2 linked regions of the Homo sapiens genome follow. The protein of the gene in region 1 purifies or fractionates together with the protein of each later gene. This does not show direct contact. Each region holds a gene or a part of one and is shown on either strand. Other genes may lie near its edges.

Region 1 (7,036 bases):
CCTGTAGTCCCAGCTACTTGGGAGGCTGAGGCAGGAGAATGGCGTGAACCTGGGAGGCGGAGGTTGCAGTGAGCCGAGGTTGCGCCACCGCACTCCAGCCTGGGCGACAGAGCGAGACTCCGTCTCAAAAAAAAAAGAAGTTAAAGCAAGAAGAGAGAGAGGAAGTCTCAGTAATATATTGGCTGATTCCCTTGGGGTTAGTAAGTGGCAGGGTCCATGGGTACCAGTGAAAAAAGGACCAACCAGTAAAATCCAAATTAAACAGCAAAGCTCTCCGCCGACGGAGCTCCTGGCTCTGAGTTACAATTTCCCACCAGGAGGCCTCCAGGGTGGTTTTGAACATCCCCTGGGTTTGAGGCTGGCTTTTGTGAGCTGTCTACACTTGTGTTTAGTGGCCCTGGGCTGGGTCCCTATGGCCTGGGCAGGACGAGCGGCTCCCCTGGTGCTCTCCTGGTGCGCCTGGGGCTCACTCACGTGCTGCAGCACCTTGCGCGGCAACTTCTCGGAGTGGGCGATCCATTCTTTCATTAAGTCTAGGATGAGGGGGATGAGGCTGACCACGCCGCCGTAGTGGTTCCGGGCCTCGTCACAGCTGAGGTGGTTCACCACATCATGAGGGTATCTGCAGGACGGCAGGGGGCCAGGTGAACCCATGCTCCCGGGACTTGCCATGCCGTGGCAAGCAGCTGCCACACCTCAGGCACAGCAGAGTCACCTGGGGAGGCTTTAGAACTGGACACACAGCACGCTGAGGCGCTCTGTCCCCAGAGATTCTGGCAGACCAGGCCTGGGGTGCCACAAGCCCCAGGTAATTCTGGTGTGAAAGACAGGAGATGCAAACCACTGCCCCATGGTCCGTAGAAACCTGGGTTAGGGGTGAGGAACTGGCTGGCTCATCCCTCTGGCTCTTCTCACCCTGGTATCTACAGAGCTTCCCCAGGCTCTGGCCCACTGTGCTGCAGGCTCCCGGGCTGTCAGGATGAGGAGCCCTCAGTGCCAGTGCTGCTGCCCCTGGGAGGCGGCTCTGGTGTCCACTTCTTTGCATGTCAGTGAGGATCTCTGTGGGCTTCTGGGGGCAACTGCTCTGGGCTCTACACCCCCTTCTCCACCTGCCTGGTGCTAACACCCGTGAGACACCTGGTGTCCTGCCATGTCTACGATGGTTGTAAAGAAAAGGTTTTGTTGAATCCGAGTCATTCCAATAAATGAGTGGAGACTGGGATTTCCTGCCCGGGGTGGTCTAATAGGAGCACCATGATCCAGGCAACAGGAAAGAAGCAGGACAGAGGCCTCCCCACAGGCACACACGGGGCCTCAAGAGCAGCATCAGAGGGACTTACTTTGCTCTGAGGCTGCTTAAGTCGTTGCTTTGGCTAACGAGGGTTTTGCATTTCTCCAGGAGGTTGTTGGTGACTGGGGTGCCAGAGTGCACGGCCTCAAAGTGCTGGCAGAGCTTATTCAGCTCTGAACAGATGTCCAGGAACATGAGCAGAACCCGCCGGTCTGTGGAGCTGTTGCAGTAGTGTTCCATGTAGCTCTGCACCTGCAAGGGCCGCCGCCACATGAGCTGGGGACATGCCAACCCGGGTCCTGGCTGGCTTATGGTGCAAATGTCCAGAAGCACCCACCCTACTCCCTCCCACCCTACATGACTCATGGGGGAGACGCAAGTAACGCTTAAGCATTTTAAGGTACAGACCACTCTATATAGTGGTATCTCTCTCTCTATAGATGGATGGATGGATGGATGGATGGATGGATGGATGGATGGATAGATATGATATGAAATTAATGGATCGGTTGGGCACAGTGGCTCACACGTGTAATCCCCGCACTTTGGGAGGCTGAGGTGGGCGGGGATCACTTGAGGTCAGGAGTTCGAGACCAGCCTGGTCAACATGGTGAAACCCCATCTCTACTAGGAAAAAAAAAATTAGCCAGGCGTGGTGGCACGTGCCTGTAATCCCAGCTACTCGGGAGGCTGAGGCAGGAAAACCACTTGAACCCGGGAGGAGGAGGCTGCAGTGAGCCGAGATCATGCCACTGCACTCCAGCCTGGGTAACAGAGCAAGATGCCATCTCAAAAACAAAAAATTAATTAAATTAAATGGACGGATGGATGGGTAGATAGATAGATGGATATAAAATCAAGTGTTCCAGGCACCATGCAAAATGCTTTACGGGCCTGCTCTCGCCTGTCTTCATCTAAACCCTACACACTGAGCAGGTACCTTTTTAAATTCCCATTTTACAGATCAGTACCATGACATGAACACTGGAGGTTTGCAGAGGTGAAATAACCCGCCCAGGGCACCAGTGGCTTAGTTGGGTGTCCCCAGCTCAGTGGCTCCGTGCCCTACCCCTCACCTGTCCCCTGCCACCTGAACCAACCACCGCCTAAAGCAAAAGGGGGCTGCCCCCTGACTTAATGCCACAGTGCCTGTCATCCCACTTCTAGAGGGTTCATTGTGAGAAATTCCAGCGTGGGCCACCCATACTGAGAGGGAAACAGCAGGGACTGGAATCCTTTGGGCTTCAGCCGTACTGTGTTCACAAGGTGGAGAAGGAGGGGCAGGCCAGTAAGTGGAGCTTATGGGGTTACCCAGTGACTGCATCTGAGGTTGGGCCAGAGCCGGAGGTCTGATCTCGAGCTAGGGAGGAATTGGCTGTGGTCCAGGCCAGATGAACAGACCCATTTCGTAGTCAGATGGTTCTACTCTCCACAATCTGATGACAGATGCAGGTATCACCTCCTCCAGCACCCACAAAGGTCTACATCTAAATCAGGGTTTTCTTGCTGTAACCGTTTGTCTTTTTGTTGCTAGGGGATGTTTCCCCAAACAATCTGAAGTGGTTCCTTCCCAAGGACTGCCATGCACAAGCAGCTTCGTAAGGGGGAGAGGCTCTTCACACTCATACCCACAAAGGCACCTGTAGGGGTCGAGGAGGAGGAACCTGCCCCATGGTGTAACTACAACAGAGCATTGCGGGGGTGGGGGGCGGTGTGCAGGGAACCTTTGGACACTTCTGGTTCAGGGAGGGCAGGGGAGGGGTGAGGCAACTCAGAACACAAGGCCACTGTTTACCAAGAGCCTTCGGCTGAACCTAAGGCAAGAAGGCCACTCCCTTATGCATGGATGTAGATTCTGGGAAGGGACACTTGTTGACTTTTGAAGCTTCTGGAGGATGGACTAAAAAGGATGTAGGCAGTTTCTTTTCTTTTTTCCCCCGAAGTCCAGGTTTACAGAAGAGGAAGTTTATTTTCCAATAGCTCAGGGGCTGCATGCGTGGGCAAATATGGCTAAATTGGCTAAATGTCACAAGTCGGTGAATCTGGGTGAGGGTTATATGGGTGCTCCTTTTCTGTACATTTAACTTTTTTTTTTTTTTTTTTTTTTTGAGACAGGGTCTTGCTGTGTCACCCAGGCTGGAGTGCAGTGGTGCGATCTCGGCTCACTGCAGCTTCTGCCTCCAGGGTTCATGTGATTCTCATGCCTCAGCCTCCCGAGTCACTGGGACTACAGGCGCGTACCACCACAACTGGCTAATTTTGGGATTTTTAGTAAAGATGGGGTTTCACCATGTTGGCCAGGCTGGTCTCCACTCCTGGCCTCAGGTGATCCACTCACCTCGGCCTCTCAAAGTGCTGGGATTACCGGCATGAGCCGCTGTGTCTGGCCTCTATATTTAACATTTTTTTGAGTTAAAAAATTGAGGAAACATTTTACCAAAATTAGAAAAAAAAAGTGTTTTTTTTCATTTTTTTGTTTTTGTTTTTGTTTTGTTTTGTTTTGTTTTTGAGACGGAGTCTCACTCTGTCGCCCAGGCTGGAGTACAGTGGCGCAATATCGGCTCACTGCAACCTCCACCTCCCAGATTCAAGCAATTCTCCTGCCTCAGCCTCCCGAGTAGCTGGGATTACAGATGCGCACCACCACGCCCAGCTATTTTTGTATTTTTAGTAGAGACAGGGTTTCACCATGTTGGTCAGGCTGGTCTCAAACTCCTGACCTCATGATCCACCTGCCTCGGCCTCCCAAAGTGCTGGGATTACAGGCATGAGCCACCACGCCTGGCCAGAAAAAAATGTTTTTAAAGGATGCTGCCAGCAAGGGTTGCTTGTTCCTCCCGAGCCTGTTTCTCCTCTGCAGTTCTGAGCCCTGCGCCTGTTCCCACCCATCTTGGGGCAGTTACCCTTCCACAAGCTGACTCCCTCCAAGCTGTGAAGGGCCGGCCTGTGTGTGTTCCTAACTGCACTGCAGCTCCAGCCCCTAACATCCTGGAAGGATCATTTGGTCTTGAGGCCTCCAAGTCCTGCACAGCAAACCTGGACAGCAGCTAACCCTGGAGGAGATGCAGGTTAAATAAAAACATCTGCGAAAGCACCTGGCGGTGTGCTTGGCATCCCACAGTTCCTCAACCCCCAGTGGAATCTGATGGGAAGGACAGGATCCCTCTGGTCACCAGTAAATCCCTGGTTTTCTATGGGTGACCACTGAACCTGCGTCACAGATGAGGACACTGAGGCACAGAAAGGTGAAGTCATTGGCCTGAGATCACAGCAGTGGCACATGGTAGAGCTAGGACTTAAGCCCTGGCCGGCTGAGTTTTAAACCTGCCTCTTTATTCACTTGTTGTTATTCACTTACATATTTGGTAGAGAAACGAATGAAGGACTCATTACATCATTTAGGTTCTGGGTCCGGGTCCTAATTCTGGCGCAAACGTCCTTCCCCTCTCTGGGCCCCAGTGGTTTCATCTTTTGTGAGAGGGGACTGGGCTTGTTGCCCCTCGGCCGGGGTGGGGGTCGGGAGCCCCACCTGTCCAATGCTGGAGATGGGCCGGATCTTGTCGTGGGCGTTCTCCCTGCAGTGCTCCAGAGCGGCGGTGAAGGTGAGCTGCTGCTGCTGGAAGAGCTTGTACTTCTGCTCGATGCTGCGAAGGGATTCTTTCACCTCATTCATTGTCTTCCTCTGTGGTCATTTACAGGAGAAGAGGAATCTATGGGGAGACAGAGGATAGTGATGAGGTCCTGGGACCCAATGCTCGGATCCAGCTCCGGAGGGAAGGACTGTCAGGGGAGAGGGATACCCATGGCCCCTCTCACTGGAGCGCCTTGTGAGTGCCTCCCCACAGAAGAAAGCGAGGCCCTGGGAGGCTGCACACTTGTCCAGAGCCCCCAGGCTGTCCATGACAGAGCTGAGCCTGACCTCGAAATTTACCCTCCATGAACACATTCTTTGCCAGGAAATGTGACTTCTTCCCTCAGCTGTGGACAGAGTTTCTCTGGTTCTGTTTCTCCAGATGTGGGTATCTACACACACGCGCGCACACACACACGCACACACATGCATGTGCACACACATACAGGTACATGCATACACACACACACGCACGCGTGTACACACACGCCCTCCAATCCCTTGCTGTGGTGTCAGCAAAACCTGGGATCAAGGGATATGCCACAGGATATAAAACCAGGAGATGATCAGTTTGGATCAAATTATTGTAAAGCTGCTCTGCAACTGGTGGGAAAGTCTGGGAATTCCTTCCCATGGATTAAGCGGGGAGAAGAATCAATACTAGACTGTCTAGTTTGAGAAGATGTAAGTCTGCCTGCTCTGGGCTGGGGGCAGGAGCCTTGGTCTCAGGTTTGCGCATTCTCAGGGCAGGGCTGGTGGCTAGTGGACTGCCCCCTGACCCTGTTAATTGCTGGAATGCCATGATCAGTAACATGGAGGCTGTGGGGAGGACTCTCTCTTGGCGCCTCACAGACTGTCCCTGCTGTGATTTAGGTGCTCCACAGAGCATCTACAATCCTCCTGTGAGCAGAAAAGTCTGTGGGTGTGTGCTCCATGACATCACAGTTTTGCTGAGCGCGTGCAAAATGCTCCAGACCACAGATTTCTATTCATGTTAGAGCTGGAAGGGACTGAGAAAACCAGCTCCCTTGAGCTGCTATGGGGAAAGTGAGGCTCAGAGGGAAAGGTTTTGCCCAGGGTGTCACAGCAAATTTGTGCCCAAGACACCCTGGGTCCTAGGCTTCCTTACGTCTAACCAGCATCGTCAGTGCTGCCACACTCGGCTGCCCCTCCACTGCCTCCAGAACAAAGGCCAGGCTCGAACGTGTCACCACATGAGCAGGGGTCAGAGAAGGCTGTGCTGAGCTCAGGTCCAGTCCAAGGGAGATGTTGGAGATGGAAGGGGCCAGAACATTTAGCATGGACTGGGGCAGGGAAGGCACATTCCAAGCTTCCAAGCAGGTCCCAGGTGGATAGGAATAACAAGACGGGGCTGGGAAATATTTCTTTCTGCTGTGTCCAGAGCAGGGCTGGAGCTGGGGGTCCAGTTTGAACCCAGGAGGTCAAGGCTCCAGTGAGCCATGATCGCAGTACTGCACTCCAGCCTAGGACACAGGGAGACCCTGACTCAAAAAAAAAAAAAAAAAAGAGGCAGGGTAGGGGGAGCATCCCAGTTGATGCAAGAAGAGATGGCATCAGAGGAATGAAAGGAAACACAAGAACAGACCAGGAGATGGCCTCCGCGAGATGATGGGGGTGGTACATCAGAGCACTTGGAGGAGGCTGGGGAAGAGGCCCTTTAGCAAGATGGAGCCCAGCCATGGAGCCTCTATCCCTGGAGCCAAAAGCCAGCAAGGCTGCCTTAGAGGAGCCACCTTAAGAGCCACTGAGTGAGTCTCCTGGAAAGACAAGAGAGTATGCTTCTGCAGCAGAGCCACAGCACTGTGACTGTCAACAGACACAGGGACAGTCGCAGCTGCCCTGGGGGTGGGCCTGGGCCAGGGCAGGCAGGGCAGGGGCCTCTTTCCAGCTCAACCTCCTATGGAAAGGAGAGCTGAAGGTGGGGAATGAGATGGGGGGTCCATGGTTTATTGACACCTGCCATATCCTTGGCTGGTCCCTGCCACATGGAGCAGACATGCTGACTCACGCACAGTGGTTTCCTGTTGTGCCTCCCGTGGTGTCCGGCTCACCCAGGACCAACTAGGGTGAGGTGAGGGAGACACTTGCCCCCA
Region 2 (7,036 bases), on another chromosome or scaffold:
ACACAGGCAATTCCACAGAATGCTAACATCAGAGATCACTGTCACCATGATAGGTCAAAACAAAACACCACCACTCCGTACATACTCATGTCTGGACTCAGGCAAGGCAAGAACATATTCCAAACCACAACACTGACCGAACATCCCCCTACTCTGGCTAATGAGTGACCACTTCCGCTTTACCATTGATAACTTCAGCCTCATACATTCCTCCTGCCTACCAGATAACATTTAGGAGACTTAATCATAGAATCCCTTCCATTTCCTGACAGCATCCAATCCAGAGCAAAGCCCTGCTTCCTTGAACCCTCTCCAAAATCACCTAACATACACCTGAGTCCTATAAGTCTTTTCTAACACCGTTTTACTGAGATGCCCTGCAGTTCTCAATGGTGTGTGGTCTTCCCACTGCAACAAGTCAATAAATCCAATTTCGTCTGAATTCAGGAGTATGTTCTTGGTGGTCTTTGCTATAGGATACTGACATCATCCATCTGGAAGTCATCAATGACATCATCCATCCAAAAGTATGTTATATCATTTGCAGCCTAAATCTGTCATAAATTAGGCACCTGTGCCTTGGAGAAGGTTGATGATAATCTTGGACATTTCTTGAATCTCACTGGCTGATGGTAACAATTTTACCCATGCTATGATTTGGATGTTTGTCCCATCCAAATCTCATGTTCAAATTTGATCCCCAGTGTGGAGGTGCAGCCTAAGGGGAGGTGTTTGGGTCACATTGTGGGGAGCAGATCCCTCATGAATAGATAATTCCCTGGGGTTGGGGGCGGTGAGTGACTTCTTGTTCCATTAGTTCCCATGACAGCTGGTGTTAAAAAGAGCCTGGCACTTCTCCTCGCTCTTGCTTCCTCTCTCACCATGTGTTCTGCAAATGCCAGCTCCCTTTCCCCTTCCACTGTGAGTAGCCTGAGGTTTTCTCCAAATGCAGATACCAGCACCATGCTTCTTGTACAGCCTGCAGACCATGAGCCAAATAAACTTCTTTTCTATATAAATTACCCAGCCTCAGGTATTCCTTTAAGCAACACAAATAAAGACAACCCAACCCTGACTTAATTCCAACAAGATTATTTCAATGTTCAAATTTTGAAAACTTCCTGAAGACTATGAATACCAGAGTACCTATAAATATACATATTTCTCACCCAAAAGGACAGGGCTCTTATTTCCCATCAGGGTGGGATACAAGTTCTTTCCAAATGACTTCTAAGATACAGGTTGCTAAAGGTTGAGTGCAGCACATCTCGTCTGCCCATATTCACTAAGGATGGATGTGGTCCACATTAACACGAAAGCACTTCATACTTTCCATCTGTTCAAAAAGGAGCCTACCCAGAAAAACCGTAAACATCCTGCATTAGCCTCTGACCACCCAGAAGAAAACAGCAAGCTCCACCTGGTGTTGACAGCTCTGCCCCATCTCCCGCAGAGTAAGGGGGGAGTCTGTGCATAATAAAATCCTTCTTCATGTCTGAGGAAAGCAGTTCTTTGGTGCCCTCCAGCCGGTCTGCAAGTGTCCTCAGGAAGCCACTTAATCGTCTTGTAGCAACAGTTGTGGATTCCACCTGCTAGGAACACAGAAGTGAGTCCTGGCCCAGATGCCAGCAGAACTTACTGCCCAGCTCAGTCTCCACAGTAGACTGCAAAACTGCCAGCCACCGGGTATAGACATTAATCCATGTCATTCCAAAGGGGAAGGGACAACCTGAGCCCCTAAGAATGATATCTCATCATTTCCTTATAAACACTGTTAATTCTAAGCTGCCTATTGTTTGCAAAAAATTTTCAGAATTTTGCCTAGAAATAGAGATCCTTGGAAATATGGTACAGTCTGAGCTCTGCCTTTTGGAAAGCAGGTCACTGTCCTAAGATGAATGCTTCAGAGAAAGCAACCTTTGCTCAACTCAGCTCTAATCCACTCATCTCAAAACTAATCAAATAACACTCCTGTTTCAAAATGTAATAAAAGAACAGGAGGCCAACGAATACACCGAGGCCAGGATCTCCAGTACAGTGAGTTTCTCTTAACTAGTAATCTGATGTGTGCTAAATCTACAGTTCTCCTGGCCGTACTATTCATTTACTCAACCAACATTTTCACACTGCCTGCTACTGCCACTGTGAAATACAGAGCTGTCTGTACAACATCACAGTTCTTTGGATCACCACATAACACATGGCACTCCACTCATTCTGCAAGTCACACAGCTCAGCAGTGCAGCACAGTAGACAAGCCTGGCTCATGTTGGAAGAAGTATCCTGGGGTCCTTAAGGTAGGACTTCAGCTGGCCTGGGCTGCAGCTACCATCCTTCATTCCTACCTGCCTTTACTCCTTACCAGGAGCAGCTGCCGGGGTATGCCGGTCCGTAACTCCACGTCTTCCTTTGCAGTATCAAATACAAGCCCCGAGATGGTATCCAAAAGGAAATCTCCCCATGAACTAGGATATGCACCAAGGGGGAAAAAAAAACCAAAACAGTGAGTGCATACGAAATATACATAAAATACTTATTGCTAGTAAAGCCAAAAGCTACAAATTGGATTATGGCTTCCCTGTCCAGGCATTTTGAGTTCCATTAATTGGACATTACTCAGCATGGAAATCTAAGACCTTCATCAACCACCCTGTTTCCTCCCTCCCCGTTCCAGACACTCACTTGCAAAGTTAAAAGTGGGAAGCTAGGCTTCAATACTGATTTCTCTTAAAAGCTCTCAGAAAATTAACCATAGACTTTCATAAAACAGGAAGTTCAATGGACCAAATTTTTAACAAAAGTGTCTATGAGGGGAGATTTGTAGGAAATTTAAACAGTCATTATAGGATCTAAAACCAAATTTTATGTGCAATAAATACAACAAATTTGGGGTAACAGCAAGATATCTGGATTGTGTAATTATTTGAACAGTTGTATGTTACATTTTCCTTGTCACTTACAAGGGATGCTACTCCTAAAGAAAATATCTACCATCAATAATTCCAAAACAATTATGTCTAGCAGTGGTTTTACCGGGGGATAGAAGCCAGTGACTAAAAATAACATCTAGGGACAAATATCCCTATTCAATTACCTTTGCTTTCTCTGGGGTATCTGGAATTGGCTCATTCCTAAGTGCGTGCCGGTGTAAGAAATGCACTCTGTGGGGATGCTCTCTTTAAACATTTCTTAGCTATTTAAAATTTTCCTGTGTCACCAGCAGATTTCAAATTGCCGGCTAGTAGAAAATGGAAATTCACAGTATGACTTTTACTTCTCACTCAGTAAGCAAAATTAACACTGTTATGCTTCCCTCCCAGAAAAGTTGCAAAGGAGGACAAAAGCCACATGAGAGACACTTTTCCCAAGACATCTACTACCTGGCGGCCTCACTGCTTTGTGACTTAATGTTATATCCAACCCTGCATCTTTAATTGAGTCTCAACCCGGAGGGCACATGCAGATCTCTCAGCACCATACAATATGTGCTTCCTTTGCAGGTTTATGTAGGTGGAAGTCATACAGCAACAGCTCATGGAGGAATTTAGTAGAAGTTAAATAGTGCTCCTCTAAGAGTCAGAATAGATATTGGGACTTCCCACAATTTAGGAATATCTCTTGAAGGGTCCACTTTGGTAAAACAACCAAATCAACAACATACAGCAGACCCCCAAACACTCCAACAATGCTACCTTGACAGGTGTTAGGAAGAGGCCCCAAATATTCACCTTTACATGGTACCTGAAGGAGCATTAGGCTCAAAACACAGGATCATTTCTGGGGAGCAATGGCCCTCAAGTCACATCTTCTCATTCTAGCTCCAGCATCACTGTCCAAGACACAGGTCAAAATCCAGCCTGGACACATTGATCATGGTACCCACCCACAATCCTAAGCAGGCAACTTCTGTAACTTAGGAAGCTCTTCCCAGCCCCAGCTGAAAAGAGAAGAAATGAATAGGACCCAGGGGCAGCCGGCCAGTTCCTCACTCTTGGGATTGGGAAACAGAGAGTGAGTCAGGTCCTTAGCAGAAGCAAAAGCTAACAGGGTCAATGAGATGGAGGTCAGAGTAGCAACTGGTGATGGCCTAATGTTATGAGTAAACAGAAGCTGAAGAAGGAACAGAAGGGAGAAAACACCAGTCACTAGAAAACCAGTTGGTAGCAGCAAGAGAAATGGAAAAGAGAATTACAGAAAGGGAGTACCTGAGAAACATTAACGATGGGACACCCACAGATGCACGGATATTCAAAGGGCCAAACTATGTGGTCCAGAACTGCTCTGAATCCAGAATGGACTTCTAATTCCAGCCTCTCTGTAGCCTGGAGTTTCTAGGACTCACTCCCTCAAGTGACCCTGCACTTCTTGAGCTGGCTTTGGTGACTTTCTGTCCCTTAAAATGCAAGGAACCTACCTAGCCAAAGTGATGAGGGCATTTTTCAAAATGGAAGCCTAATACAAACTTGGGCCTTCTACTTGTGGGAAAGATAGCACTAAACTAGGGCCAGGCCTCAGCTAATTCCTCCAGTAAGTCTTTTAAATGTAGAGGTGAAATTCACACTGAAAAGTCTGATGAGGAAGCAGAGGTATGCTTACTAACTTGTTTTGCAAGTTCTGGCCCTGAAGGTAGGAGGTGACTTGCCGTCCCTTGGACCTAGAATGTCCTCTCCTACTCTGATCTGCTGACCCACCCCTACTTACTCATCCTTTAAGACTCACTCAGCATTGGTGTCATTTCTGAAGGCTTCTCTAATGCCCCTACTTAGCTAAATGCATTCCTCTATGCTCCAAGAGTCTCCTCTGCAAACCTACAATAGAATTTATCACACCATCTCTTCTCCTACAACCAATTCCAAAGTATAAGCTCTCTCAAAACCCCTTCGATAAAATCCTTGAATTCCCAGCAACAAACACAATGTCTAGTACATATTTGTTTAACACATTAACTCATGACTAGTATTTTTTTTTTTTTCCTGAGACAGGGTCTCGCTCTGTCGCCCAGGCTGGAGTGCAGTGGCGTGATTTGGATCACTGCAACCTCCACCTCCTGTGTTCAAGTGATTCTCCTGCCTCAACCTCCAGAGTAGCTGGGATTACAGGTGCACACCACCACACCTGGCTAATATTTGTATTTTTTTTAGTAGAGATGGGGTTTCACCATGTTGGCCAGGCTGGTCTCAAACTTCTGACCTCAAGCGATCCACCCGCCTCAGCCTCCCAAAGTGCTGGGATTACAGGAGTGAGCCACCACGCCTGGCCATGATTAGTATTTTTAAATATGATTTGGACCAGCAAGGTTGCTGCTTTTTGGATATAACTCACACAGCACTGCCACCCAGTGAGGAGGTACTAGCTGAAATGAACATGATTTTAATTGGAACTGCTGTCAGCACATGCACTTTAGTTCCTGCTGTTCCAGACTGCCTGTCCTACTTTAACTTCATGGACTGTAAAAAGAGAAACCCTCAAAGAGACCAAGAGATTTCAATGGGTACAGAGTTTCTGTTGGAATAAACATGTTTTAGAAACGAATAGTGGTGATGGCTGCACAAGAGTGTGAATGTAATTAATGTCAAACTATGCTTTAAAATGGTTTAAAATGGTATATTTTATGTTCTATATATTTTATCATATTAAAAAAAAAGAGAGAGAGTATGAGCCCAGCCTGGCATCACTAACACACTGATGTACCCACAGCTAGTCTCTTTCTTTCCAAACTATGTGACTCTCTATTTGGGCAATGCCCCACATCCTACAGAGTCAGGTTCATGATGTCCCCAGAAGCAAGTCCAGAGGGACCAGTCACATACATGGGACATCAAAGGAATGTGGAAGTCAGTAAAGGACATAAACCCTGGGGTTTGCATAGGAGGTAGGGGCCAACTCCCTCATATCCCTCCTGAATGTGGCTGCTGCAGGCCAGGACTCAGAGCTGTCCTAGCATGTGCAGCTGGGAGGCAGTGTTTACTTGTTCTGGTAGGTGCTGATGGTCACGTGAGTAGAGTGGGCCAGCCCCGCAGGAGTGTCCGCTTGATGAATGGTTCCTCTGGGAAAGTACAACAAATCACCCGGCTAAAGGAAGGAATAGGAAAGGGTAGAGAAGTTAATAAGTATTCCTTCTCAGTCCTCTTCATTTCAGGGAGATAAATATGGGCTTTGAGTCTCAGTTCTCCATTCTAGAAACCACAACCTCAAGGCACAGTCTATATGCTGGGCTCATGTCGTGTGCAGCTAGTCTAGCTTCTCTGTGTCCGTGAGCCTGTCACTGTTAACCATGATCCACGAGAGGCTCTCGGTGCCTGAAGTCACTATCTTTTCATTCTCAAGCTGAGACTAGACTCACCTGAGACTACCCTGCCCTGATGCAGGGATCAAGGAAGGTAACATCCTGTGCCTGGGACGCCTGCTTCCTCCCTCTTGCATGCTTCAGTGGTTAAGAGTAGGAGCTTGAATTTAGAGTCACACAGACACAGCCACTTACTGGCTGATGATCTGGCAATTTACCTGCCCAAAGCCTCAGTTTCTTTATCTGTAAAATGAAGTTTAATAGCCCCAAACCTTACAGGATTATTTTGAGGATTAGAGATGCTGCTTCCAAGCTCTTAGGGCAATGATGGGCATGTGATTGGATTATATGATTTTATCCGCCAGTCCCCCACTTCCTGATAATTTTTGAGTACTTCTAGGCGCAGGGTCTGTATCTTACCATCTTGTCTTTCCCAGAGCCTACCCTAGCAAAGCACCTAGCACTCAACACAGGCTCAATGAATGTTGGGATGAATTGAAAAACTATACAATCCCTATTTCAACTGAAAAATAAGATGTAATCAAAAATTCATCATTTTCTTGGGCAGCTGAGCCTCCTCTACCCTATTCCAAGTGGGTGGACCAAAACATTCTCCCCAAATTACTCCTGCCCTGAGCTGCCTCCTTCCCAATCCCACTCAGGCCAAAATATTCCATGTAGCAGCTACCTATGGAGAAAAGAGGGAATCTTGAGGGCAGCTCATCTTCTCTCTGCAACTACAAGAGGTAG

The links.
Region 2: the proteins of SPACA9 (region 1) and RIOX2 purify together in Homo sapiens (affinity purification with mass spectrometry; 3 studies listed by BioGRID and IntAct, with this or other methods). This does not show direct contact.

The regions. Positions count from the first base shown.
Region 1 is NC_000009.12:132,881,876-132,888,911, reverse strand, and holds part of SPACA9 (sperm acrosome-associated protein 9), read right to left. Parts: intron 5,002-7,036; 5' UTR 4,965-5,001; coding exon 4,821-4,964; intron 1,544-4,820; coding exon 1,341-1,543; intron 623-1,340; coding exon 301-622; 3' UTR 1-300. UniProt on the Homo sapiens protein: Microtubule inner protein (MIP) part of the dynein-decorated doublet microtubules (DMTs) of multiciliated respiratory cells and the distal singlet microtubules of monoflagellated spermatozoa.
Region 2 is NC_000003.12:97,948,424-97,955,459, forward strand, and holds part of RIOX2 (ribosomal oxygenase 2), read right to left. Parts: intron 6,073-7,036; coding exon 5,969-6,072; intron 3,830-5,968; coding exon of another isoform or gene 3,772-3,829; exon of another isoform or gene 3,729-3,771; intron 3,719-3,728; exon of another isoform or gene 3,187-3,718; coding exon of another isoform or gene 3,095-3,186; intron 2,466-3,094; coding exon 2,363-2,465; intron 1,593-2,362; coding exon 1,421-1,592; intron 1-1,420. UniProt on the Homo sapiens protein: Oxygenase that can act as both a histone lysine demethylase and a ribosomal histidine hydroxylase. Is involved in the demethylation of trimethylated 'Lys-9' on histone H3 (H3K9me3), leading to an increase in ribosomal RNA expression.